Regions from separate parts of the Homo sapiens genome. Here region 1 is linked to region 2. The links come from fine-mapping of genetic effects on plasma protein levels. A gene starts in region 2. The other region holds a variant in brackets. All regions are shown on one strand. Distances are from middle to middle. Region 1 overlaps C6orf89 (chromosome 6 open reading frame 89). Region 2 holds the start of PI16 (peptidase inhibitor 16).

What was found. PIP is the posterior inclusion probability: the model's chance that the variant is causal. The UK Biobank Pharma Proteomics Project read protein levels with antibody pairs (Olink). The fine-mapping took linkage between variants from a reference panel, not from the people measured, so its PIPs are less certain.
Region 1: its variant is fine-mapped to the plasma level of the PI16 protein (UK Biobank, PIP above 0.99).

What each region holds. Positions count from the first base shown.
Region 1 is chr6:36,920,789-36,937,511 of GRCh38, forward strand. C6orf89 (chromosome 6 open reading frame 89) reads left to right here. Exons shown (of 9, transcript NM_001286635.2): 9 at 2,559-8,176. The coding sequence ends at 2,653. Among named protein-coding and RNA genes, the nearest start is that of PI16, 26 kb to the right of the region's middle. The variant G/A (reference allele first, on the strand shown) is at 10,188.
Region 2 is chr6:36,949,876-36,962,440 of GRCh38, forward strand. It overlaps PI16 (peptidase inhibitor 16), which reads left to right and starts at 4,863. Exons shown (of 7, transcript NM_153370.3): 1 at 4,863-5,056; 2 at 9,270-9,491; 3 at 11,576-11,685; 4 at 12,011-12,099. The coding sequence starts at 4,886. RefSeq lists enhancers at 8,766-9,267, 9,268-9,767.

The DNA.
Region 1 (16,723 bases), 27 kb before region 2:
TGACTATTGCGAAAATCTCTCTGGCATATTTAGGTTTGGAGCATGTGGTTGTGCTTGAACAAGTTTCTGTTTTATATTTTACAAATGCCTAACAATTCAGACAACTACAGAAACACCTTAGTTATCTGAATTCCAGACTTCCGGCTCCCACGAGCAACCGGAATACCAATTACAGAATTAGGGAAAAATTAAAAAAAAAAAAGTCTGGCAGTGATCAAGAAAGCTTGAGCATCAAATGCTGGTACAGATAGTCCAGATTAGCCTAACATCCGGTGCATGATACCTGCTGTGCTGTGCCTGGCTGGTTTGTTGACTAGAAAGAAAGGACCCCTATAGTTGGCAGTGTCTATAAAAGGCCAGTCACATGACAGAACACAGAGATGGATGGGGACTGAAGAGAAGAAGAAGAGGAGAGCAAGTCTGGGAGAAGAATGGGGGCAGGGAGGGGTGGGGAAGCCAGCGAGCACCTGAAGCAGTGACAGAAATAGACATGATGGCTGTCACTGCCACGGTTAACAATGAGGACAGGAAAGCAGACCCTGACCAAGAAGAATCATTCAGTGTTACAGGACAGATGGCGGTTCCTCTACCTTAGGGACCCTTAAGAATGGCACCATGACATGCAAGTTCTATGATTTTTGACAAAATGTACATTTTCCTGTGGAGATGGAGGGGAGAGGGGTTCCAGATCACCAGAAAACCTTTTGGGGGTCAGGTACAACATCTGCAGTCACTGTACAGGATAGTCATTGCCCATCATGACCAAGTCACCAAGTAAAAGTTGAATTCTACTCAGTGCTCTTCATTTAAAGATGAGCAGGGCCCATAGTACGCTAGAATAAATTTCCCATCAAGAGATTTTTTTTGTTTAAAATTTTATTTTCTTATGGTAAAAACACTTAACATGAGATCTACCCTCTCAACGAATTTTTAAGTGTACAAGACAGCATTGTTAGGGGCTGAGCAGGGTAGCTCACACCTATAATCCCAGCACTTTGGGAGGCCAAGGCAGGAGGATTGCTTGAGCCCAGGAGTTCAAGACCAGTCTGGGCAAGATGGTAGGACCTTGTATCTACCCAAAATTACAAAATTAGCCAGGCGTGGTGGCACACGCCTGTAGTTCCAGCTACTCAGGAAGCTGAGTTGGGAGGATCTCTTGAGCCCAGGAATTTGAGGCTGCAGTGAGCTATGACTGCACCGCTGCACTCCAGCCTGGGCAATGAAGCGAGACCCTGTCTCTAAAATCACTGAATTAAAAATTTTTAAAGCCATGCGCGATGGCTCACGCCTGTAATCCCAGCACTTGGGGAGGTCAAGGCGGGCAGATCACCTGAGGTCAGGAGTTCGAGACCAGCCTGGCCAAGAGATGATGAAACCCCGTCTCTACTAAAAATAGAAAAAATTAGCCAGGCATGGTGGTGTGCACCTGTAATCCCAGCTACTCGGGAGGCTGAGGCAGGAGAATTGCTTGAACCTGGGAGGTGGAGGTTGCAGTGAGCCGAGATTGCGCCATTGCACTCCAGCTTGGGCAACAAGAGTGAAACTCCGTCTCAAAAAAAAAAAGAAAGAAAAAAAGAATTTTTAAAAGTATTGTAAACTATAGGCACAATGATGTTCAGCATCACTGGGGATTATTGAAAGGTTGAAGTTTTTAGGTTTACCTTCATAGCCCACTCAAATGATAGGTCAGTGTTTCCTAAACGATTCTTCAGATTACTCATGACCCCACAGGTGGGACCAGAAGGCCTTTGAAAAGACCCTTGGCAAGTAGGGTCTCGAGTCAGTCGACTTTGGGAAATGCCTGTCTTGTTGATGCATAGTACATTATTAGTGTATCAAAGATGTTGAAAAGCCTTGGGGAAACCTAGTGTTTCTCAGGCTTACTTGGCCATGGAACCTATTTTCTTTGGAATATCTTACAGGACACTACTGTTTGCCAAACCCAATTTGGGCAATGCTGGTTTAGGTTTAGGTTAATCTGGATGTTCTGTAATGAAACCACATTATAGATAGACACAGGAAAATTGGCTAGTAGGTCTTGTGTCCCCTCGGAATCCATTCTGTCTTCTTGCTGTAAAAGCTGAGACTTGATGCCCAACAGCAGCCTCATCTAGAGCATCCTGCCTTTGTAAGCCTGCTGAATTGTGATTCACAGTTCCCTGGGTGAGGGGTGGTGATAAAGCATTTAAAGAGGACTGATAATAACTAGGAATACTTATGCTAGGAAGTGCCAGAAGACTTTCAGAGCAATTTGTCTTTAAGCCAGGTGTAGTGGCCCACACCTGTAATCTCAGCACTCTGGGAGGCTGAGGCAGGAGAATCACTTGAGCCCAGGAGTTCAAGACCAGCCTGGGCAATATAGTGAGACCCCTATCTCTTAAAAAATAAAAAAGGAAAGAAAAAGAAAAAAAAGGAAACTAAATTAAATAGAAAAAGATTTGTCTTTGACTCTGCAGTGCACCCTGAGGGCCAGCTCTGGCAGACCTGCCTTGCTCGTGCCCACAGGTGTGCCCACCCTCTGACATTTACATGCCTTCCTCTTGCTATTTCCCCTCAAGGCTATGTCGACACCACCCACTGGAAGGTCTACGTTATAGCCAGAGGGGTCCAGCCTTTGGTCATCTGCGATGGAACCGCTTTCTCAGAACTGTAGGAAATAGAACTGTGCACAGGAACAGCTTCCAGAGCCGAAAACCAGGTTGAAAGGGGAAAAATAAAAACAAAAACGATGAAACTGCTTTCTGGGGGTTGGTTACTTAGTTACCTGCCCTTTGCATGCATGTGTGAACCAGCTGTGAGCTGCAAGGCAGTGGCCAGAGCCTCGCCCTCCTGACTCTTCCTGCAGGTGGCTCAGGAAGGATTCAGCCTGGCCACTTGGCTAGGACTCTGCCAGCACCCATCTGAGACTGACCTCTTCCGGGCCTTTGGACACTATGACCTTGATGCTGCCCTTCAGGCAGGAAACAGGGCTGGTGCCTTTCTTCACCTGCATGGCCAGCTTCCTTCCCTGGCAGTGGAGAGGGCAGCCAACAGGTTCTAATGTCAGAGCCATCCTTTACCAGGTGGGCCTGCTTGTCCCTGTCTTGCCTGCCACATCACTCTACTTTTTGGAAGGCCATGGCTGATTAAAGAAGTTCTTGTAGTTTCCCAAGCAAAGTGGAATCTAGAAACAGTGAAAAAAGTTCAGATAACTTTGAATTGCATTCAAGAAGTACACTTCTTTCCCATTGTCCGTGGCTCTTGGAGTCTCCGTGATGCCAGGCTAGAGTCTGATTATATAATAATTCAAAATGGTAACTCCCAAGGTAATGCTTTCTTCCATTTCATCAGGTTCTTTTATCCCCACTGCACCCCCTCCCCTTCTCCCTTGCCTATCTGGATGGCTTCTCAGAAGCTCGGCCCTAGTCCTCCCTGCCTTGGCGGGGCCAGAGCCCACTACTGCTGAGGCAGCACTGCTCTCGTCAGCTGTGTTGCCTTTACCAAGTGTCTTCAGAGGGTTATGAGTTAGAGTAGCTGGCCTGGGGAGAGGGTGCCTCCCTGGGTTTGATCTTTAGGGTCTGACTTTCTGCAGAGAAGATGTTTTACAGATGTGTCAAAGCTGATGTAATGTGGTTGGGGGAGGAAATCCAGACCCAAAGTGTTTGTCAGCTGGGTGTACAACTGCCTATGTGATCCTCTGTCTTAAAATGATTTCTGTCTGTGCTGCGAAACAAAGACAAGGTGAGGTGTTTTTCTTTTTTGTAATAATATAAAGCTGTGTGTTTCTGATTGGATGATTCACTATGTGCATTGTTTTCTCCTAAGTGCTTTTAGTAGGTAGCAATCAAATGGTGTAAATAAGGATGTTCTTTTCCTGTTCCTTTTATTTTTTTCTCTCTTTATTATTCTTTTATTGACACCACTAGATAGCTGGCCACTGGTCATGCCATTGCCAAGATGAAGAAAAAGCAAACTACACTTTGGCCTCTGGTTCTGAATTGCAGAAATCAAAGGATGCAGTAGGTGTCTATGTCAGAATTATGGATCAGAGGCAGACAATGACGAGTGAAGATGGTTGTGAAGCCCTCTTCATTCCTGGAGGAGCCTGCATCTCATCTCTCAGGCCCTCTTTCTCTGTGGGTCTCATGAACAGCAGTGGGGACCATTGAGCACTTGAATGGCCTGTTTGTCTATGGGCTTGCAAAGGACAAGCAGAGTTCACAGAGCTCAGGATAGAAACATCAGAGCCTCCTCCACGGGCTTCAGTGAAACTCCGATGAACTGTACCTGAGGGAATTTTTTCTTAATCAACCCCTTGTGTGGATGAATACAGGAACAACAAAACTTGTGTACGTATGAAAGTCATGTTGTTAAGCAGTTATGATTTAAGAGGTTTTAAGTCAGAGGGATCATCTGGAGGCCGGCTTTGTGCAAGCTTTTACAGCCTTCTGCAGTGTCCTTACCCTGGCTGTACATGGGGAAGGGCTATGTGTAAACAAGTGCTTTAGAGGCCTCTGAGAGTTTTTAAAAATCAGACCCATTAACAAAAGAGAGGGTTTCTTAGGAACAAAGCAACTATTTTGATTACTGAGATCTCTGTTTTGTTTCTGTGAGTTACTCTGTATTCCTTTCCCCATTTCACTCTTGCCCTTCACATCTTAAATGTCCATAAGAAACCCTTGCATGTGTTGGTATTCTGAGGCATCCCGTGGGAAAGTCCCCTAAGTCCCATTTTGTACTTCAACAAAAAATGACTGTAGCAGAAGATAAGTGGAGACTTTTATGGATATACTACTCATTTTACTTAAAATCTACCCAGTTCAGACTTGAATGTAAACTTGTATTAGGGGAAAATTCTCCAAAGAGGGTTTTCTACATACACAGAAGCAGTTCAACTTCTCAAGTTAATTTTGATAAGCAGAATCTACTACTGGCCAGAGCGACAGGAGTGGCTAGGGGTTGCCAGCCAGTCCCTTTCTGATGATCAAGGCCCTGCACAGCAGGATGCCACAGGATGCCCCTGCCATCTAGCTGGAAGCATCAAAAGTCCCTCTGTATGACCCGGTGTGGGAAAGAGGGTTGTCAGGATGAGAAAGTGGGGCTGCAGGGTGACGATAAGACCACCTAACCAACTCCCCACCTCCACCACCACAATAAGAACAAAACTGTAGGGCTCTAAAGAGAGGGGGTGGTTTACAAGTTTATTGAGCATTTACTAGGAAGTGACATGGCGATGACCTCTGTACATGAGTTAGGTTCACTTTCATGTGGCCTCCCACTACAGAGATGCGTATGCCCAGAAGTCAGCTCTCTGAGGAGACAGGCTACTTTGGCCCCAGTTTGAAGCATTCTGTCCAAATGTCCTGAGCTCTCCAGCAGTCAAGTAGTGAATGGATACCATACTTATTATGGTTGATGAAAAAAGGCAGAGCTTATCCTCAATTTTTTTTAGGGAAGAGAAGGAATAAAATAAAAGTGGTTCAAGCTGGGCATGGTGGCTCACACCTGTAATTGCAGCACTTTGGGAGGCTGAGGCAGGCAGATCACTTGAGGTCAGGAGTTCAAGACCAGCCTGGCCAACAGGGTGAAACCCCATCTCTACTAAAAATACAAAAATTACCCAGGCGTGATGGTGGGCGCCTGTAATCCCAGCTACACAGGAAGCTGAGGCAGGAAAATTGCTTGAACCGGGGAGGCGGAGATTGCAGTGAGCCAAGATTGTGCCACTTCATTCCAGCCTGGGCGACAGAGCGAAACTCTGTCAAAGGAAAGGAAAGAAAAGAAAAAAAAAAAGAGAGAGAGAAAAGAAGAGGGGAGGGGAGGGAAAGGGAAGGGAGGGGAGGGGAGGAGAGGAGAGCAGATTGGGGGGGCTCATGTTCTGAGAGAAAGGAATAATAGCATTTGTCTAGTACATTCCAGTTTACAAAGTGCCTGATATACATGATCTCCTTTAATCTTCACCCAATCCTGTAAAGTAGGTGTTAGATCCCCATTTTGCAAGTAAATAAGTGGAGGCTTAGAGCAGTTAACCGCTGGCAGGTAGGTAGCTGGTTCCATAGCACATCATTTTCCTGCGGCATCACGGCATGGTGCCGAAGAAGACAGCTGTGGATGTCGTTGACTCAGATGTGCCTCCGTTGGGGTGGGAGAACCCAGGGATGGGGGTCAGCAAGCCAGGAACTCCGCAGGGTTTGTTTTTAAAACTCTGCTGGACAGAAGTGGAGGAGGAAAGAATCTAACCATATGACTTTTATAAAAATCCTTTCACTTTTCCCCTCCCCATTTGAAAACTCTTTTTAAGAGTGAATGTAGCTGAAACACAACTGTGTCCAGCCATTTTCCTGTCTCCACATTCTTCCAGATGTGTGACAGAGGAGGGACTCTGCTCAATTCCAGTTGTGGGTCCCCTTGGAGTTTACATCACTTGTTTTTCAATTCTTGGTTTTCTGTTCCCTTCTACCAAAACCCAGCATAGGACTCAGTGTACACTTACTTTAAAACAAAAACTCACATTTCTTAGCTGCAGGTGATGGCCTCAGTCATTTTAATACAGCCTGGAATGAGTTTGCTTATTACCCAGTCACTTTCGTAGTGAATGTTCAAACCCCAAAGCAAATGTTTGCATCTCCTTGTCCATAAAGGAGAAAGCCAGGTTATAGGAGAAAGAGAGAGAAAGGCGCATGTCTGTTTGCACAGAGAGAGGCAATTTTGTCTACCTTTCGAGAATCAGTTATAAACAGAAGGGCCTCTTAGGATTTTGAGCTCTCCTGACAATGAAGGAAAAGCTCTCTTGAGTATACAAGTTCCACACTCATTACCTTTCAGTGGTGACCCATCACCCACTACAATTTGTTGAAGGAAGGGAGTGTCAGAGATATGCTTTAAAGTTGTACTTTAGGCTGAAATTCTCTCTGTATTTGGACCTGCAGATGTTGTGTACAGAACCGATGCATGGCAGGGTCAGGAAGCTAGGAGAGTGAAGGCGCTTGTGGAGACAGCTCTGTAGCAAATGAAACACGGAAGCCTCCGGGAATGTGTTTGTGTCACCAGCAGCAGGCATTTCCCTGTCCTCCCCACCCCCAGTCTCCACATCCCCAGCAGCCTCTTCCAGAAGCATGTCAGGGAGACGGACAGGTGCTCTCCTTCTCGTGCACCACATCCAAGTCCACCCACCGTGGACGCAGTGTGACTAAATGCTGGCCTTGAAGAGAAACCCTCAGCCAGCTTGTCTGTTGTCCAGGTCCCTCAGTGTCTCTGGTTTCCCTGCCCTGCATAATTTAAGCATTAGTGCCAAATACATCTGTCATATTCCTCTCCCTGGAGACTGCGAAATGTCCAGACTTTTTCAGACTAGTGGAGGGAAGGAATGTTACATAACTAAGTGGAGGCCTGGAACTGTCAGGATTTGACAGGGCTGGACCAGAGACCCTTCCGCCTCTGCCTAGTGTGTCTGTCAGGCAGGCAGCAGCCATCAATCCAAGAATGAGCCATGGCGGCAAGCACTGTGTGGAGAAAGGAACCCAGCCGAGGTCTGAGTTTCAGACAGAAACTGGGGAGTTGGGACATCTTCTCTGTGCCAGGCTTCATTGACACCATCGCTCCCCACAGCAGCTCCTTGGGGCAGGGGGCTCACCTGTGCAGCCACCCTTACTCACAGTAGCATCCCATTCTTCACACTGCAACCCCCCAGCACTGTGGACCCTTCCAGGGAGGTGACAGGAGCCAGCAGACACATGACATTCCCAGAAAGCCCCATCTTATCCAGACAGGCTTCCCTCCATACTTCTTTCCACAGTTTTACCCTCAGAAAAATGTTGGCTGCAGTCTTCCCTTCCTTCACCTCCACCCTGGGGAAGGGTCAGTAACCAATGCCGAGGGTCGGGGAAGGAGGAGTCACAGGCAAGACAGGGACTCAGCGCAGTGCTCCCGCCATCATCGGGGACAGGTGCCAGGGTCAGCTGCAGCTCTCCTTCCGGGAGCAGGGTGTGGTGGCCCTGGATGGTCCCAGGGAGCAGAGGGAGGCAGGCAGCTGTCACAGCCACAGCGGCTCTGAATGGCTTGAGCTTTTAGTATGTGTTCAAGTGCAGGATACTACAAACTGGTAAAGACTTCCACCATGTGAAGAATGTATGTAAATTAAAGTTTATTGTAATGAAGGTTTTTACTTTTTGCAATTAAAAGTGTTGGTTGATAAGAACTTTCCTCTTGTTGGTGTCATTCTTTAATTTCCAGTTTTCTCTTGTTTCCCCTTCTCCCATGACATGAGAGACTTCTAGCCATATCTCGCTCATGAGGCCGGCCTGTGGGGCTCCTCTGTGCCCGCCTGGCTTTGGTCTCTACCATTTGCACCCAGCACTGTCCTTGCATTCACAGCCTCCACTTTCTCCGCACCCCAGACGTTACCCACAGCGGCTTCTCATCTGCTATTCCCATGAATTCTCAAATCTCAGTCCCCCTGTTAATACCCTCCCCTGTCTGTGCACTTCACCCAGAATGCAGGTGAGCCCCTGGACGCCTTTTTTTTTCTCACCAGCTTGCTGCACACAGCCCAGATGCCCTCCCAGTGATGCCTCACCCACGGCGTCCTTGGTTCTCGCAGGACGGCCAGGCATGTGTGCGGGACTCCAGGCCCCTTGCTGGCTCACCCCAGCTGCCCCCAGATGACAGGCTGCTCTCAGCACTTAGTTAACTCGGTGGATTTCAGTCAGACATTTTTGTGTGTGTTCATTTTTTAGCCATTATATATATATATACTTTCATATAAATGCATAAATATGACCATTTTTTATATGCTGTTAAGTGTCCTCCTGTTTAATTTTTCTCTGTTACTTGCTGCCCCTTCCTCTTCCCCATGTTACCCCACCCCTTTTCCTAGTCAGGTAACTGTGATATATACACAGCCATACTCTGCCGTGTATTTTTCCATAATTTCCTCCATGCTCTCTAATCATAAACAAGGTTTTGTTACTGCTTTACCGAAAATGGGATCATATTACAGGCCCTTTCTTTGTCCTGCTTTTCTTACTCAACTCCTCACAGAGTTCTCTTCAGGTCAGCTGGTAGGGCTCCAGTCCCTTCTTCTTGATGGTTAATACTCCGTGGCGTGGGTGTGCTGTCATTTATTCTGCTGTTGTCTTATTGATGGTAAGTCACATCCTGTTAAATGATTAGTCGGGCTATAAGTCAAGAAGTCTGGAGTCCACTTTAAAATACTTGTTTTTACAAAATGTCCATTCTTGTTTGTTCCAACCCTAATATATTTTATTCAGGAATAAGATATATTATTCCTTTCCACAATTCTGTTCATTTACCTGCTTGAAAACTGGAATTCAGCCCTCCCCAAAAACGGGGCGGGGGGTAAGGGCTTGATTCCCTGTTAAAACATGATGAGATAGCCTGTTTTCAGTCCCCTTCTTTCTCCACCCCACTATAGCATTTGATACTGACTTGTGGAGAACCCGTCCCTCCCTCCCTTGGCCTCTGTGGTACTCACTACCCCTTCCTGGACCTCTTCTTCCTACTCTGTCTCCTTTGTAGGATCGTCCTCTTCTGCCTGTCTCTGAAATTTTGGTCTCTCCTATGGTTCTGCCTGCAGTTTCTCCCTGGGATATCTCAACTCCATGCTTCACCCTCCAGCCATGGGCAGATCACCTCCAGTCTATGCTCAGCCCACACCTCTCACTTGAGCAGTAGCCCTGTGCATCCACGTGATGGGAGGTCATCTCTGCCAACTCCAAAGCACCTCTACATCACCATGTCCAAAAAGTCTATGGCAGCCGCAAGGGGTTCCTCTCCTTTTTCTTAGCCTCTACTTCTGACCAGGACCAAGCTCAGGACAATCCTGCCTCCTTATCACATATCGAGCTCCACTGCTGCTGTCTCTGTCTAAGAGCTTGCTTCACTCTTAGACTCTGCCAGTAATTACCTCACTGGTTTCTCGCCGCACATTCCCCATCCCAATTCACCATCCATGTAGCTGCCCTGATGTCTGGTCACCTCCCTTCCTTGCTCCTCAGTGACTCTCCATTGCCCACAGGAGAAGTCCTGGCCACCACTCCAGCCTCATCTCCTTTGCTTCCCCTTCTCATCTCCTGTGCCCCTCCTCTACTGGACCATCCTAATTCCTGGAAACGTCCAGGCTGGGGTTTTTGTTGTTTGTTAATTTTTGGAGCAGTTCTAGGTTCACAGCAAAATTGAATGGAAAGTAC[G/A]GCGAGTTCCCATATATCCCCTGTTCCCGCATGTGCACAGCCTCCCCCACTATCAGCATCCCTACCAGAGTGGTGCATTTGTTACAGTCAATGAACCTACGTTGACAGGTCATTATCGCCTGAAGTCTATAGTTTATATTAGGTTCACTTCACTGTTGGTGTTTTACATCCTATATGGGTTTGGACAAATGTATGTTGTCCTGTGTTATATGTCTGCCATTATAGTATCATACAGAGTAGTTTCACTGCCCTAAAAATCCTCTATGCTCTATCTGATCATCCCTCTCTCCCCACTAACCCCTGGCAACCACAGATCTTTTACTGTCTCCATAGTTTTGCCTTTTCCAGAATGTTCAAATAGTTGGAATCATACAGCCTGTAGCCTTTTTAGACTGGCTTCTTCCACTTAGTAATAGGCACATAAGTTTCCTCAACATCTTTTCATGGCTCAATAGTTCATTTCTTTTTAGTGCCAAATAATAGTCCATGGTCTGGATATACCAGAATTTATGTATCCATCTACTGAAGGACATATTGTTTGCTTCCCAAGTTTTGGCAATTGTAAATAAAGCTACTAAAACCATTCATGCGCAGGTTTTTGTGTGGACAGAAGTTTTCAGTTCATATAACTAAATACAAAGGAGTACAATAATTGGATCATATGGTAAGAGTATGTTTAGCTTTTTTTTTTTTTTTTTTTTTTTTTTTTTTGAGATGGAATCTTGCTCTGCCACCCAGGCTGGAGTGCAGTGGTGCAATCTCAGTTCACTGCAAGCTCCACCTCCTGGGTTCACACCATTCTCCTGCCTCAGCCTTCTGAGTAGCTGGGACTACAGGCACCCGCCACCACGCCCGGCTCATTTTTTGTATTTTCAGTAGAGACGGGGTTTCACCGTGTTAGCCAGGATGGTCTCGCTCTCCTGACCTCATGATCTGCCCGCCTCGGCCTCCCAAAGTGCTGGGATTACAGGTGTGAGCCACCGCACCCGGCCTAAGTATGTTTAGCTTTTTATGAAACCATTGAATTGTCTTCCATAGTGGCTGTACCATTTTACAGTCCTACCAGCAATGAGAGTTCCTGTTGCTCCACAGCCTCACCAGCATGTGTCAGTGTTTTGGATTTGGGCCATTCTAATAGGTTTGTAACACCTTACTGCTTTAATTTGCAATTCCCTAATGACATACGATGTTGAACATGTTTTCTTATTTACCATCTATATATCATTTTTGGTGAGGATTCCAGATCTTTTGCTCATTTTTTTTTTATTATAGTCTGGTTGGTTGTTTTCTTACTATTGAGTTTTAAGAGTTCTGTGGCTTGTCTTCTCATTTCTTGACATTGTCTTTTCCAGAGCAGAAGTTTTTAATTTCAGCAAAGTCCAGCTTATCATTGGTTTCTTCATGGATGATGCCTTTGGTGTTGTATCTAAAAGGTCACCTCTATAACCAAGGTCATCTAGGGCCTTCTCCTGTGTTAACTTCTAAGAGTTTTATACTTTTACATTTTATACTCACATTTAGATTCATTCTGAGCGAATTTTTATGGAAGGTATAAGGTCTATGTCTAGATTCATTTTTTGCATGTTAATGTCCAGTTGTTCTAGCATATTGCCTTTGCTCCTCTGTCAAAAATCAACACTTTGGCTGGGTGCGGTGGCTCACACCTGTAACCCCAGCACTTTGGGAGGCCAAGGCGGGCAGATCACGAAGTCAGGAGTTTGAGACCAGCCTGGCCAACATGGTGAAACCCCATCTCTACTAAAAATACAAAAATTAGCTGGGCATGGTGGCGGGCACCTGGAATCCCAGCTACCCGGGAGGCTGCAGCAGGAGAGGCATTTGAACTTGGGAGGTGGAGGTTGCAGTGAGCTGAGATCGAGCCATTGCACTCCAGCCTGGGCAACATGGCGAGACTCCATCTCAAAAAACAAAAAAAAAAAATCAGTATCTTTATGTGGATCTGTTTCTAGGCTCTCTCTCTCGTGGTCTTTTGATATATTTGTCTGTTCTTTTGCTGATAGGACGCTGTCTCGATCACTATAGCTTTATAGTAAATATTGAAGTCAGAGTGGTGTCAGTCTTCTACCTTGTTCTTCTTCAGTATTAAGTTGGATATTCTGAGTCTTTTGCTTCTTCATTTAAACATTAGAATCCGTTTATTGATATCCACAAAATAGCTTGTGTTTGATTTTGATTGGGATTGCATTGAATCCATAGATCAAATTGCATCCAGGCGGTTTTAATTAGAAGTTATAATTCCTAGCCCATGATGTTTTTGAAATTCAGTATGAATTTTTGCTTAGTTTGAATTCCATCTTATTACTGCACATTCCTGTGACATGACACATGTCCTTTAGGCTTTCTTACTAAATCAAACTGACAAGCCTCTAGACACCATGCTGAAGACAGACATTTCACCAATCTTATTTTTTCAGAATAATGACTCTATTATTTTTTTTAAAATAATACATTCTTATTATAAAGAACTGAAGACAGTTTGGGTGATCTTATGGAAACCTCCACTCAGTGCCAGGTGCGGTAGCTTACAGCTGTAATCCCAGTGCTTTGGGAGGCCAAGGGGAGAGACCGAGAGTTTGAGACCTACCTGGGCAACATAGTAAGACCCTGTCTGTACAAAAAAAAAAAAAAAAAAAAAGAAAAATTTAATTAGCTGGGTGTGGTGACGCACACCTGTAGTCCCAGCCTCAGCCTCATCGCTTGAACCCAGGAGGTTGAGACTGCAGTGAGCCATGATTGCAACACTGCACTCCAGCCCAGGCAACAGAGCGAGACCTTGTCTCTTAAAAACAAAAAACCAAAAACCACCCAGAGATAACTACTAACATTAGGTGAACAGCATTCTAGGTATGTCTAAGGTATTTCTAGGTAGAATGCTAAATAGAAATGCTTATATTAAAATGCTATTTTAAAAAGAAAAGTTCTGAATCTAATTTTATGTGAATCTAACAGGAGAAAAAGAAACTGAAGTAGATGTTTCTTCCCCACAAAAATTAGTAGTTCCCAAAAGATCTCCCTGAAGTTAATATTATGAGAAACATTAAGAAACTAGAATTGTTCTTAATAAGGTTTCCTTTTTAGATGGCATAATCCAAGGCTCTAAAGATAAGGAAATAGCTTGCTCTTTCTCCTCAATTTGTTTATTCCTATATTGATTTTGTTTTTAAAGTCTATGCATTTCCTTCTGCTCTGAAACCTTAATTCTCACCACAGTCTTTTTTTCTTTCTTTTTGAAACAAAGTCTCACTATGTTGTTCTCACCAGCCTCAAAGAATCCTCCAGCCTTAGTTTCTCAAGTAGCTGGGACTTCATTTTATTTTATTTTTATTTATTTTTTTGAGGTAGAATCTCACTTTGTCACCTAGGCTGGAGTGCAATGGCACAATCTCAGCTCACTGCAGCTCTGCCTCCCGGGTTTGAGCGATTCTCCTGCCTCAGTCTCCTGAGTAGCTGGGATTACAGGCAAACACCATCGCACCTGGCTAATTTTTGTATTTTTAGTAGAGACGGGGTTTCACCCTGTTGGCCAGGCTGGTCTTGAACTCCTGAGCTCAGGTGATCTGCCCACCTCAGCCTCCCAAAGTGCTGGGATTACAGATGTGAGCCACCCCGCCCGGCCTTCATTTTATATTTAAACTGATTTTGTGGCTCACCACCAGTATTTTTGCCATTGCTTCTTCATTTCTGAGTTGTTATTTTTAAACTCTTGATTGAAGTCCAGCCACAGTGGCTCATGCCTGTAATCCCAGCACTTTGGGAGGTCTGGGCGGGCAGATCATTTAAGTTCAGGAGTTCGAGACCAACCTGGCCAACATGGCAAAACCCCATCTCTATAAAAAATACAAAAATTAGCTGGGCGTGGAGGCAGGCGCCTGTAATCCCAGCTATTTGGGAGACTGAGGCAGGAGAATAGCTTGAACCCAGGAGGCGGAGGTTGCAAAGAGCAGAGATCACACCACTGCACTCCAGCCTGGGCAACAGAGCGAGATTCCGTCTCAATAAACAAACAAACAAACAAACAAACTCTTGATTGGCTGAATTGCACCGTTAGGAATGACTCAGGAATGGCTCATGAGTTCTGTATTTTCTGCGTTAGGGAATGTTTCTGTGGTCTTTATAGTTGTGCACACCTTGGCTGAATAAAATATTCTTGCATCACACCTTCTTTTGCTCAGAATTTGGATATATTTCTCCATTGTCATCTGGTGTTGACTGTTGGTAGGGACAACACTGAGGCCAGCCGAAGAGTCCCATCTAAGAGGATACCCTCTAACGAGATATTCCCTTGGCTTTTTCTTTCTTTTTTTTCTTTCTTTTCTTCCTTTCTCTTTCTCTTTTTAAATCTATATGTCTGAATAGTTCTTTCTTGTTCTTTATCAGTTTTTCCTGGAACAAAGTGTGCTTTTTAGAGGTGCAATTCTATTCTTCATTCTAGGGAAGATGTCTTGTATTTTCTTGATGAATACTTTTTCTTTTTCATGTGTTAGGTTTTCTGTTTTAAATTCTATTTTTATTCTTTTTTTCATTGTCTTGATATTTTTTATACCTTTCATAGCTATCTCTCTTTTTAATGCATGTCTCTTTTCTCTTCATTCACCATGATTATCTCAGGCCTTTCCTTGATATCAGATTGATTTTTAGCCATATCTGTTCATTTTCTTGCTATTTCTCATGTATGAGTTTTGAAGAAGTGCCGTCAGTTTCTTTCCTTGTTATTTCATCTGTTTCAGCTTTGAGTGCCTACTTTCTTGAATTCATGTTTTTTTTACATTTTTCTATAGCTGAGACTACTACTGGGAATTTTTTTTCCTGTTCCTTGGATTACATTTTCTTCTGGACTTGGCTCTCATCAATCACATGCATGTTCCTTCCTTTCACTGTTTTCCTTTCATATGTTTGTGTATCTGCCATGTCATTTCTTTTATATGTTTTGTACTTCTGCCTCTGGCCAGACGTTTTGTTTGCTTCTGTAAAATATGAGTACATTATTAATTCCAAAAGTATCTGTAGCCACTACTTAGATTTAACAAATGTTAACATTTTACTGTATTTTAAAAGCATTGCTTCATGCAACCCATTTAGTACTTGCCATGAAACGCCCCCATCTTTACTCTGTTGTAACTGAGGTATCTCCTCAACAGGTAAACAACTGAAACTGTACTTCCCTTCCTGACCTCCAGTTGACTTTCCCTTTCTTCACTCTGTGCTAATCAGGAGCTAAGATTTTCTTAACCACCTACCATTTTCTATCTTCACTTTTTTTTTTTTAATCCTTATTTTTCACCCCCACTAAGGAAAATTACTGAGAACCAAGTTAGCAAAAACCTAGCAAATGGGCTGGGCTTGGTGGCTCATGCCTGTAATCCCAGCACTTTGGGAGGCTGAGGTGGGTGGATCACCTGAGGTTGGGAGTTCAAGACCAGCCTGACTAACATGGAGAAACCCCATCTCTACTAAAAATACAAAAGTAGCCGGGTGTGGTGGAGCATGCCTGTAATCCCAGCTACTCGGGAGGCTGAGGCAGGAGAATTGTGTGAACCCGGGAGGTGGAGGTTGTGAAGAGCCGAGATCGCTCCATTGCACTCCAGCGTGGGTAACGAGCGAAACTCCATCTCAAAAAAAAACAAAAAAAAACAAAAAAAAAAACCTAGCAAATATAAGAAACACAGCACTAATCTAAAAACCAACTTGATAACCCCTTCCTTTTCAGCCACTCAGGCACATACCCAGACACAGAGCCACTTGCTCTTCAGGAGCCCACCCACCAACGTGGAGGCCTGGGGACTTGGGAACCCGAAGCCTCATTACAAATCCCAGCTCTGGCATACCAGGAGAGTGACTTTGGAGGGTTCTGCCAATCCCTCTGCTCCTTGGTTTCCTCACCCCTAAATCAATGCAGCAAATAAATGCCATCTTCAAGGGGTCAGCGTAAAGATACGTGAGACGGTGTGGACGAAGTGCCCAGCTCTGTCCCAGCACAGAGCAGATACTTGACGCTGGGCTGCTGTCCCCTTTCCCTCTTATCATCAGCCTCCATCCCCCAGTGTTTGCTTCTGCCCTCCTCTGTGGACAGCCCTCCTCCAAGCCACCAATGGCAGAGCTGGACTAGACCCAGAAGATTCTCTGACCACCCCCTTCTTCCTTATGAATAGGGAAGAAGCTGAGGCCCATAGCTGGTGGCTGAATGAGGAGAACTCACCCAGTTTTCTCTTCAGTGTGTGGAAACACCATCCGCGTCTGCTGCCTGACCCCCTCATAGTCCTCTCCTTACCCCATTCCATCCTGAACCCTCTGTAAAAATCACCCAGAGGATATCCACACAGCCCCAAGCTTAACCCTTATCCTCTTTGCTGACAACTCCCAGCATTCAATGCTTTTCTTCACCTGTTTGGCCTAGGTTTGAGGGATGAGGACACAGCTCATTCATTTGGTTGCACCCATGCCTAGTTCCTTCTAGAGGCTGGGCCCTGAGGTGCTCTCTGGAGGTGCTCTGTTTCCCTCCTGCCATCTGGTTCCCT
Region 2 (12,565 bases):
TGTGAGCTAAAGTTGGATATTTTTTTTTTTTCTCATGGTGGCTCAAGTGGCCTGGGTTGTAAAGGCTCCCTCCAGACACGATTTTTCCTTTGTCACCGTACTCCTGGCCAATGTAAGAATTCCTGTTTTTGTGGTGGTGGTTGTTACTGTGGTAAAATATAGAACATAAAATTTACCATCTTACCCATGTTTATGTGTCCAGTTCAGTGGCATTAAGTATGGACTTTCACAGCATTGTCACCATCACCACCGTCCATCAACAGAACTTGTTCCTCTTCCCAAACCAAACCTCTACACCACTAAACACTAACTCCCCATTCTCTCCTTCCTCCAGCCCCCGGCAATCACCATTCTATTTTCTGTCTCTATAAATTTGCCTACTCTAGCTAGGTACTGCATATAAGTGGGATCATGTAAGATTTGTTCTTTTGTGTCTGGCTTAGTTCACTTAGCCTAATGTCTTCAAAGTTCATCCATGTTGTAATATGTGTCAGAATTTCCTTCCTTTTTAAGGCAAAATAATAGTCCATTGTATATGTGATCGTACATTTTGTGTATACTACACTATTAGTTCATTCATTGATGAACATTTGGGTTGTTTCCACCTTTTAGCTATTGTGACTAATGCTACTATCAACACCGGTGTACAAATATATTTGTTTGAGTCCCTGCTTTTTTTTTTTTTAAGATGGAGTTTCGCTCTTGTCGCCCAGGCTGGAGAGCAATGGCACGATCTCGGCTCACCGCAACCTCCACTTCCTGGGTTCAAGCGATTCTCCTGCCTCAGCCTCCTGAGTAGCTGGGATTACAGGCATGTGCCACCACACCCGGCTAATTTTGCGCTTTTGGCAAAGACAGGGTTTCTCCATGTTGGTCAGGCTGGTCTCGAACTCCTGACCTCAGGTGATCCGCCCGCCTCGGCCTCCCAAAATGCTGTGATTACAGGCTTGAGCCACCGTGCCCGGCCAAGTCCCTGCTTTTAACTCTTTCGCGTATATACCCAGAAGTGAAATTTCTGGCTCATATGGTAATTCTGTGTTTAATTTTTTGAGGCACCGTCACACTGTCTTCCACAGTGGCTGCACCTTTTACATTCCCAGAAGCAATGTACAAGGGTTTCAATTTCTCCATATCCTTGTCAACACTTGCTATTTTCTGTTTTGTTTTGTTTCTTAATAATAGCCATCCTAATGAGTGTGAAGTGGTATTTCACTGTATTTCCCTAATGGTAAGTGATGTCGATCATCTTTTCATGTGCTAATTGGCCACTTGTATATCTTCTCTGGAGAAATGTCTTTTCGACAATGAATAATTGCATGAATAATTGCATAAATGAACAATGAATTTTCAAGTCCTTTGCCTATTTAATCAAATTTTTTTTTCTTGAGACAGGCTCTCCCTCTGTTGCCCAGGCTGGAGTCTGGAGTGCAGTGGTGTGATCTCGGCTCTCTGCAGCCTTGACCTCCCAGGCCCAAGCAATTTTCCCACCTCAGCCTTCCTAGTAGCTGGGACTACAGGTGCATGCCACCATGCCCAGCTGATTTTTGTATTTTTTGTAGAGATGAGGTTTCACCTTGTTGCCCAGGCTGATCTTGAACTTGTGGTCTCAAGCGATCGGCCCGCCTTAGCCTCCCAAACTGCTGGGATTACAAAGTGCTGAGCCACTGAATCGACTTCAAATTGTTTTGTTGTTGTTGTTGTTGTTGAGTTGTAGGAGTTTTAAAAATATATCCTAGATATTGGCCAGGTGTGGTGGTTCATGCCTGTAATCTCAGCACTTTAGGAGGCCAAGGCGGGCAGATTACTTGAGGTCAGGAGTTTGAGACCAGCCTGGCCAACATGGCGAAATCTTGTCTCTACTAAAAATACAAAACTTAGCCAGGCATGGTGGCGCATGTCTGACGTCCCAGCCTACTTGGGAGGCTGAGGTGGGAGAACCACTTGAACCCGGGAGGCGGAGGTTGCAGTAGCCAAGATTGCGCGAGTGCACTCCAGCCTGGGTGACAGAGCGAGACCCTGTCTCAAAAACAACAACAAAAAACCCACAAAATATATATCCTAGATATTAATCCCTTATCAGATACATGATTTGCAAATATTTTTTCCCAGTTCATGGGAAATTGTGTCTTTTTTTTTTTTTTCTTTTGAGACTCCGTCACCCAGGCTGGAATGCGGTGACTGGATCTTGACTCACTGCAACCTCTGCCTCCCAGGTTCAAGCAATTCTCCTGCCTCAGCCTCCTGAGTAGCTGGGACTACAGGCGCCTGCCACCACACCCAGCTAATTTTTGTATTTTTAGTAGAGACGGGGTTTCACCATGTTGGCCAGGCTGGTCTCGAACTCTTGACCTCAAGTGATCCACCCACCTTGGCCTCTCAAAGTGCTGGGATTACAGGCATGAGCCACTACACTCTGCCCCCGAAAGTTCTTAATTTTAATGAAGTCCAATTTATTTTTGTTTTGTTGCCTATGCTTTTGGTGTCATATCCAAGAAATCCTTGCCACATCCAATGCCAAGAAGTCCCCCTTATATTTTCTTCTAAGAGTTTTGTAGTTTTAGCTTTTATGTTTAGGTATTTAATCCATTTTGGAGTTAATTTTTTAATATACTTACGGTAAAGATTCAACTTCATTATTTCGCATGTGGACATTCCAGTTTTCTAAGTCTTCTTTAAAAGACTTGCCTTTCCCTCGTTGAACGGTCTTGGTACCCTTGTCTAAAATCATTTGACCATATGTGTAAGAGTTTATTTCTGGGCTATTCTATTCCATTAGTCTAAATGTCTGTCTTTATACTAATACCACACTATTTTAATTATTGTAGATTTGTGGTTACATATTAAAATCAGAAACTGTAAGACTTCCAATTTTGTTCTTTTTCAAGATTGTTTTGACTATTTGGGGTCCTTTGAGATTCCATATAAATTTTAGGATGGATTTTTCTGTTTCTATAAAAATATTATGATTTGCATTTCAATAGGGATTGCATTGAATCTGTAGATTGCTTCAGGCAACATTGACACCTTAGCAATATCAAGTCTTCTAATCCATGAATATAGGATGACTTTCCATTTATTTGTGTCTTCTTTCACTTTGTTTGTCAACACTTGTGATTTTCAGCGTACAAGTCTTTTGCTTCCTTGGTTAAGTTTATTGCTAAGGGCCAGGCGCAGTGGCTCACACCTGTAATCCCAGCACTTTGGGAGACCGAGGCGGGCGGATCACGAGGTCAAGAGATCAAGACCATTTGGCCAACATGGTGAAACCCCATCTCTACTAAAAATACAAAAATTTGCCGGGCATGGTAGCAGCTATGGTGGGCAGCATGGTGGGCAAGTAGTCCCAGCTACTTGGGAGGCTGAGGCAGGAGAATCACTTGAACCCAGGAGGCAGAGGTTGCAGTGAGCCAAGATCATGCCACTGCACTCCAGCCTGGGTGACAGAGCGAGACTCCATCTCAAAAAAAAAAAAAAAGTTTATTGGTAAGAATTTTATTCTTTTTATTCTTTTTCATTGCTTTTATAAATGAAATTGTTTTCTTAATTTCCTTTTTGGATTTTTCATTATTAGTGTATAGAAACAACTAATTTCTATGTGTTAATTTTGTATCCTGCAACTTTGCTGACTTTATTAATTCTAATAAGTGTGTGTGTGTGTGTATGTGTGTGTAATCCATCTTGGTTTTGTTTTTATTTTTACTTGGAGACTCAGGCAGGGACAGGTTTTCTTGTCATCTTCCAAAGCCTGTGGGTAGACTTTTTCTAGGTCCCTATTCATTGAAGAAGCAGGCTTCAAGGATCCCAGCTGTCCTCAAGAGTACTGGTTCCAGCTTCCTGCTTCATGAACCGGTCATGGCCCCTGCAAGGTCAAGGTCATTATAATGCCAGCACCTGACTGCTAAGGCTATTTCCCTTCCAATACCTTCCCCTCAGAGCTCCTGGTGCATCAGCTCATTCAACCTTCTGCTTTTCTGCTCTCTCTTGATTTAAGAAACAGACACATTATATTTCTACATAGTTAGAGCACAGGGGTCCCAGCATCCCACTTCCAAATGAGCATGTCAAGCACATGCATTCAGAGAGGATACCTGGAAGCCAAAATTTTGCCATAGTGAAAGGCCTTATTCCTGAATACAGCTAGAGTGGGGAAGACCTTGGCCTCTCCCCCCGCAGGCAAGAATGTTGCCTCCACAGGGGGCTGGTAGCCTGCTAAGGCCCAGGCCACATGAGTGGGTTGTCTACTGTTACTGAGGGCCTACTATGTGCCAGACACCATACTAGGTGCTTTACATACATTATATGTCATTGAATCTTCCCTCTAGTCCTGTGAGATAGGTACTATTATTGTCACTGATTCACTTGAGAAAGCTGCCAAAACACAGATAGCAAGGGGCAGAACCAGGATTCTGATTTAGGTTGGCTCAGCCTTTTATCAAATACATCTGGTCTTCCTCTGTCCTTTCAAAAGCCTATAGCTTCCTCATCTTGCCCACTCCTCTGTGGGTAGGGTCTGTGGTTTCCTTTCTCTTATCTATCTTCAACACACAGTGGGTGTGACCTGGGTGCAACCAGTCACAGCTCTGCAGAGGTTACTGTGATTTTGCCCCTGAAGGATCTGTCCACAACTTAGGAACTCACACAGCTTTTGGCCTGAGCCCCCGTTACCAAGAGAAAGGAGGTTTTTGCCAAGGACTCCAAGGGGAGTGCACTTGATGCTGGTCGGGACCCAAAGCGCCCAGCCCTCCCTGAGACATTGTGTGAGTCGGGCTGGGCCTCAAACACGGCCCCCACTGCCCCACCCCAGCCAGGGTGGTGCTTGTGTGGGAAGGACTTTAAATCCAGCTGCCAGACCCCTGGACGGGAGAAGGAGAGACGGCTGGCCACCATGCACGGCTCCTGCAGTTTCCTGATGCTTCTGCTGCCGCTACTGCTACTGCTGGTGGCCACCACAGGCCCCGTTGGAGCCCTCACAGATGAGGAGAAACGTTTGATGGTGGAGCTGCACAACCTCTACCGGGCCCAGGTATCCCCGACGGCCTCAGACATGCTGCACATGGTAAGTGTGGCCACGGCCCTTGCTGGCTGGGATGGAAGGGGTGCTGGCCAGGGTCTGTCACCAGGCTCTCTTACCCTGCTCCTCATGCTGAAGCTATTTCAGAATTCCTCTCCTTTTTCTGGTCAGTGACAGAGTCCCCGAGTCCCTGACATGGTATTACATTACTTTAAATGGCAAAAACCACAATTACTTTTGCACCCGCCTAATAAAATTCACAGGCCCCTATAAGCAGCCTCATAATACAGATAAGGAAAGTGAGGCTCAGAGGGATTTGTTGGGGTCACACAGCTGGTAGAGCCAGACCCAAAGCCCTGGCTTCCCACTCCAATGAGCTTTCCCCAGCACTTCCTCAAATGCATGTGCCCTCAGTGGGGGAACCCGGGAAGTTCTTAACACCTTTGTGAAAACGGTCTTTCACATGCCTGCCAAGGAGAGGACAAGAGGAAGCAGGGCAGCAGGATGGGCGTGGGCACGTGGAGTAGGAGGCAGGTGCTAAGGAGGTGGGTGACAGCAGGATCCAGAAGCAGAGAGGGCTCTGGATCACACAGTCCAAATTCTGTCTCGGTCACCTACAAGACCTATGATTCGAGGCAAGTCCTGTAACCTTGCCGATCCCGTGTCTCATCTGTAAAAGGCGGTCAGAATTAGAGCTACGTATATACCAGTGTGGATTGAATCTCACAGATATCATACTGAATGGGGGAGGAAATAAAATCTCTAAAAAATACACAGTAGGATCTCTTTACATGAAGTCTGAAAACATGTAAAAATACTATTTATGTCCTGGTGAAACACGCAGATGTAGTAAACATTACATGTACATGCACACAGGAGACAGAAGCCAGATTTAGGGTTGGTTACTTCTGTCAGGAAGAGCTATTTATGGTAGGGTGAGAGGCGGGCTGTCTATATGCAGAATTAAAGGAGATAAAGTGAGAAATTCACCCACTTCCTGCCCTCCCTGAGGGCTGAACTAGCTTGTCCCCTCCAGCCACCCTCAGGTGACTGGGGAGGTTGCTGGGCAGTGTTCAGGGACCCCTGGAGCTGGTGCCTGAGAGAACAGATGCACCTTGGGGAACATAACAGTGAGCCTGGGGCCCCAAACCTAAGTTCTAACCTCAGCCTAATGTGATCTGGCTGAAGTAACTCTGGGTGGACCCCTTTCCCTTCAAAGGCCTCTGTTTCCAGATGGAAACATGGGGCTGGCGATCCCTGCCCTGGGCGTCAGACAGGATGACACGTAAGAAAGATCTAGGAAGAGCTCTGCACACACCCAGCACTGCCGTTCACAGCTGTGCCAGCCTGCACATCGAGGAAAGGTGGACAACAAACCAGGCGTCACAGATGCAGCTCTGCCAACAGCTCCCTGATTGAGGCCTGTGACTCATTGTTGGACTTCAGTTTCCCCACCTGTAGATCCCTGATGCCCTACAGTCTTGCTGGCTGAGACTGGGGGCCACACAGGCTGGGAGCTGCTTCTCAGACAGAGGTGCGCCTTGGAGTGGGGCAACATTCTGGGAGGCAGTTGGGATACTGAGGGGATATGCTGCTGCCTAATGGGGAGTGACATGAGGAGGAGGAGATGAGGCTGGGGCTGGGATGCCAGGAAACATTCAGGACAAGACTCAGGTTCAACCTCAGCAGTGGTGAGGGCAGGGACTCTGCAGCCAAATGGCCTGGGTTCAAATCTTAGCTTTGTTACTTATTAGCTTTGTGACCTTGGCCAAATTAAACTCTCTGTGCCTCAGTCTCCTCATCTGTAAAATGGGGATGATAACAGTGGGATAATTCCCTTGTAGCTACAGTGGTTGTAGGGTTAAGTGAGTGAATATGTGTAAAGCACTCAGAAGAATGCCTGGCACACAGTAAGTGCTCAGTAAGTGTCTGATTAACACAAAAGAGGGAATGGATCCAGGGTGAGGCAGGTGGGGGTTATCATGAACTCTTCCTTCTCTCTCAGCCTCCAGAGCTAATCAGCACCAGTTTTGCCACCCCGAAGGTTCAATTGTCCTTGAAATCTAACCCTTACCCCTACCCCCTTCTCTTTTCAGCACAATCCTGGTTCAGGTTTCTTTCATTCTTCCACACAAGGACTCCTAGGATAGCCTCTACCTGTTCCCCAGCTTCTGGCCTCTGCTGTCAGAATGAATAATCCAACACATGGGCCTGACCCTGCTCAAAATCCTTCAGTGGCTCCCATGGCTCCCTACTGCTTCAGGTTAAAGCTCCAGCTCCTGACTGAGAAGGTTCTGTGTGTTCTGGCCCCTGCCTATCTCTCCATCCTCCTCTCCCGCTTGCCCTTTATTCTTCTGTCACCTGAACAGCTTGTCTTTTCCCAGCCAAAATGTTTCCCAGCTTCATGCCTTTGCTGATGTGTACCTTCTGATTAGGATGCCTCTCCCCTCCAGCTGACTAATGCCTCATCTTTTAACACTTAGCTTGGTGTCTCCCTCTCCACCTTTGGCTGGGCTAGATGGCCCTCTTTGGTGCCTCTATAGTACTTGTGGCACATCTGTCATTTACCATGTGGTGGCCCAAATGACTTTTATGTCAATGGAAATTTGGGCTTCTTGGTTCCTGCTGTTGTCCCAGGGCTGACACAATGCCCAGGACTGTTGAATGAATGAATGAATGGACTTGCTTCTAGATGGTGACCATGTGGCCAATGTGGGTGGGTGCTGAGAGTCTTACAAACTCCACAGGGGGCTCTGGATGACTGACTGAGAATCCTTAAGACCAAAGCAATGATGCTAATGGTGGGGCTCCAGATATCTAGTCAGAATGGAAATTACAGCCAGGCTCTGTAGGGGTAGACTGCTTTAAGAAGGGCCCTGTCTCAGTCATCAATAGTTGACAAGTATCTGTTGAGCACCTACTATGTGCCAGCACTGCGCCAGACACTGGGGATCCATCCATGCCCTACCGTGATGGCACTTACAGTCCAGCCCGGCACCTCGCAGGTGATCTCAGACACCCTGACCCTGGCCCCCAGCGCCCTGCCCCTTTCCCACTCCCAGTCTCCCACTGTTGCCAGAGTTGAGAGAATCTCAGGGGCCAGTGATTTGGGACAAAAATGTCCAGAGAGGGAAAGATACTCACCCAAGGTCACAGCTGTGGAGCTATCCCAGCCAGGTGCACCCATCCCCATGCCAGGCAGCGGCTCCTGAAAGCCTTGAGTGGGTGGGGAGTAGGTGTGGCCACACAGCCACCTCCCCTCAGGGTCACCCAAGCTCTTGGCGCTTTATGGGCTGTCTGGCTCCCAGAGCTGGCTGGGCCCTCATAGGGTGGAGCAAGAGCTGCCGCCAGGCCATGGATTTCCAGGAGAAGCCAAGGACAGCGTTTAATGGGATCCAGGTTTCCCCTCCTCAATCCTTTGGGTCGGATGCCTTGTTAATCCCTCTTCCCACCCACACTCGGCCTGTCCTCTCAGCCAGGGACACAATCGCAAAGGCCCCGAACCTAAAATTCCCCCTCTCACCATCTCACCTGAGGTCCCCACTGGAGAACACTGTCACTGGGGTCTGACAGTGGGTTACCAAGGCTCTGAAAGTAGGCCCCTTGGTGAGAGGCCTGTGACATTCAGTGTCACATAGAGACGCTTAATTTTCTTGGAGAAAGGGGGTTGCCGTTGACAAGGGTTGGGAGCAGTTAGGAACAGCACTGGGGCGGGAGCCTGCAGAGGGTAAAGGCATGGGGGCTGGGTGACCCAAGGGGAGGGTGGGGGCTTAGAGGGAGAGGAAGGTGCCGGCCCTCAAGTCAGGTTCATGGTTGAGGGGTAGGGAAATGGGCTGAATAAACAACCCAGCCCCTCAACATCGATCACACCGTGATCTTGTGCTCTTCAGAGAAGTTCAAGGAGGACTGGGAGGTAGGCAGGGGCATGTATGGCCACCTTTTTCACATGAGGCTTTTAATAATAACACTGTCACCAACACCACCTCATCCACTCTTCCCAGCCCTCTGAGGGTGCGGAAAGTTTAGACAATCCGTGCAGTCACACAGCTGGTGAATGGTCCAGCTCCACGGCCTGGGGTGGCATCCTTCACCGCCCCACAGACGCCCACCCAGAGCAGAGACCTGTTCTAGGCCATGCCCAAGAGTCACCCTGCTAAGGAGGTGCCGGAAGGATTTCCCCACGACCTCCTCGACCTTTTGCTTGGTCCCCACAGCATCTGTGGGCATCCTCACCTCCCTTCTCTCACCTGCCCTGCAGAGATGGGACGAGGAGCTGGCCGCCTTCGCCAAGGCCTACGCACGGCAGTGCGTGTGGGGCCACAACAAGGAGCGCGGGCGCCGCGGCGAGAATCTGTTCGCCATCACAGACGAGGGCATGGACGTGCCGCTGGCCATGGAGGAGTGGCACCACGAGCGTGAGCACTACAACCTCAGCGCCGCCACCTGCAGCCCAGGCCAGATGTGCGGCCACTACACGCAGGTGTGGGCCCGGCGGGCGAGGCGGGGCGGAGCCTCGCGGCGTGGGGGTGGGGCCACGTGCTCCCTGGGCGGGGCCACCTCTGCCTTCACCCCTCCTAAGCGTCCTCGCTGCAAGTAGGCGGGCTTCACTCCAAGCCCCCTCAGACACTTTGCAAATCTTGTCCTCTCACTGCAGCTAATACGCTGTCTAAGACTCTGACGGAGTCGGCTGCTCCTAGTCTGCTAGGCCAGGCGCCGTAGCTCACCCCTGTAATCCCAGCAATTTGGGAGGCCGAGCTGGGAGGATCGCTTAAGGCCAGGAGTTGGAGACCAGCCTGGGCAACATGGCGAGATCCCTGTCCCTACAAAAAAATACAAAAAACTTTGCTGGGCGCGGTGGCGCGCGCCAGCTGCTCTGGAGGCGGAGGTGGAAGGATCACTTCAGCCCAGGAGGTTGAGGCTGCAGTGAGTCGTGATCACACCACTACACTCCAGCCTGGGCGACAGAGGGAGGCCCTGTCTCAAAAAAAAAAAAAAAAAATTAAATAAATAAATAAATAAATAAAAAGGGGTGGGGACGGTGGGACATGTTAGGTGTCACAGAGCCAATTTTATGGACCATGGTTATTGTCCTAGGCCATACTGTACTGGGCTCCAAGTGATCCTGCCTCACTTCCCCCAGATAGTGCAGAGCTGTTTGCCCCAGCAGCAGATAGTCCCTTAACTTCTCTCTGTGGCTCTTTTGCATTTATTATGGTGTCTAATTTGCTACTTCTCATCTGCCAGGGACTAATAAAGCAAATTGACAATTTTGCTTAGTTTTTCTTTTGCATTTAACAATTATGCATAACGATGAAGAACAAATTGTGGCTGAATGAAAGGCTTCAGGGAGATTTCTGATAGAATTTCCTGCTCCCCAGTCACACTTTGCTCCTGTCTGGGTTCTCACTGCATTTTGAAAGTTTGGGCTTGCAGATAAGATGTGTGTGTGTGTGTGTGTGTGTGTGTGTGTGTGTGTGTAGGGGAATTAACATTAGTGTTACTGAATTATTTTTTCTCCTCCCAGTGCTTATGTGTTGTACAAATAATAACATGACAAACAAAAGAAAAGAAACCAACCATCTTCCCACCCACATCCACCAATTCCATTTCTCAGTGTCTCTTTTTCATGGTATTTTTAGTCTTCATCTTTAGGGAGGAAATCCCAGCAGCACCCACCCAGGTCAGAAAGTTGTGAGGGCCCAGCACCCTTCCTGGCCCTTTCCCTCTGGATCCTGCCACCCCTCCCTCTCCCTCCACCCCCCCCCTCCCTCTACCCCCACCCACTTGCTCCTGCAGGGATTGTTATCAGGACCCAGCAGGGAGTGAGTCAGCCCAGCTCCACCCCAGCTTTCTCTGGGGCTGAGGGTGCATGCACTCTGGAGTCGTTTCTGCCCAGAAGGTGCTCAACACGGGGAGACCTTCAGCTGATTTCAGCAGAGATTCCTGGGCAGATTGAACCTAGAACCAGCAAGGCAAGGCTGCTGGTCTCACCCCATGGCAGCACACAAATGTTGTTGGACTTTCTGTTTGATAAAGATAGAAGTCTTTCTAGCAGTTAAGAGACCCACACTGAGAAACAACCAGAACAGGTCCTGCTCACCTGTGATTTGGGGGAAGTTCCACTTCCAAAATGGCTCCTCCTGCTCCCCTCCTTGGACTTTTCTTGTTGCTGAGGTCTAAAATTCTACCATTTGAGATTCTTTCGTTTGGATATATCCTTCACTTAAAATGCAAGGGCCTCTAGGCCTTTTTTTCTAGCCCACAGAAAAAAATTAATGAGGGTATATCACAGTCCTGGAGCTGAGGGAAGGTTTTGAGAGGAAAAGAGACCTGGCAAAGTGGTATGTGTGGTTGGCAGAGGAGAGTAGACTGTTAGGGACAAACTCCCCCATCCCTCCCCCTGGTTAGAGTTTTGTCCTGAACCTGCATGGCCTTGGGGACGTGGATGTCACAGGCTATAGGGTGCCTCTTCTCTCCACTCCTGTAAGGCAGGTGTAGTGGGATGCCAGGAAGGCACCATGCCACCTCGCATGGGGCTGAGCTGCTAGGTTTGCCCTTCATCAGGTGGTATGGGCCAAGACAGAGAGGATCGGCTGTGGTTCCCACTTCTGTGAGAAGCTCCAGGGTGTTGAGGAGACCAACATCGAATTACTGGTGTGCAACTATGAGCCTCCGTGAGTGCCGGGGGGAACCCTGGAGATGGAGAGGGGGAAGGCACAGGCAGAGCCAAGGGGAGGGCAGAGTCGGCCACAGCCTGAGGGAGTGGGAGGAGAGGGGTCAGTCTGGAGCAATACTGTCCAGGGAGCTGTGAAGGCACCAATGGGGGTCTGCTGTCATCTGCCAGAGAGGGCCAGGAGGAGCCCAAGTTCGCCCAGCAAGTCAGTGGCTGGCAGTCAGGAGACCCAAGGGCATTTCCAGAGTAGGTGTGTGTATAGGAGTTGGGGAGAGGGTTGGGAGGGGTCGACCCCCTCCCCGCAGCATCCTCCTGACCTCCTGTAGGGGGAACGTGAAGGGGAAACGGCCCTACCAGGAGGGGACTCCGTGCTCCCAATGTCCCTCTGGCTACCACTGCAAGAACTCCCTCTGTGGTGAGTCCACGGGTGGATGGGTAGGGGCAGGGGGTGTGGAAATGATGCGATGCAGACTGGATGGTCTAAGAGCCTCCCTGGACTGAGCGGGACGTGGGCAGGGAAGGAGCCTGGTGGGATGCGACCACCGGGGGCCCCTGGCGGCTCCCTTAGCCCCCCACGCGCAGCCACTTTGGCGCCCTGTCGTTCCAAGTGGCCGGATTTCAACCCTTCAAAGGGAGGATGTTAGAAAGTCTGGCGGCTTCGGGGGGGCCCGCGCGAGGTGGGTGTCGCCACACTTTAGGGTCTCGAGGAGCGGGCTGGGGCCAGACCGGTGGGCGTGGTCAGAAGGCTTCAAACGGGCGAGGCCAGTCTTGCTGGGGGCGTGTGAGGGACCGCGATCCCGCTGGAGAAGTCCCCTGAAAAAGGGCAAGTACGAATGTAGAGAGACTTGGACCAGGAGGTGGCTAGAGGAGCAACTGTGTCA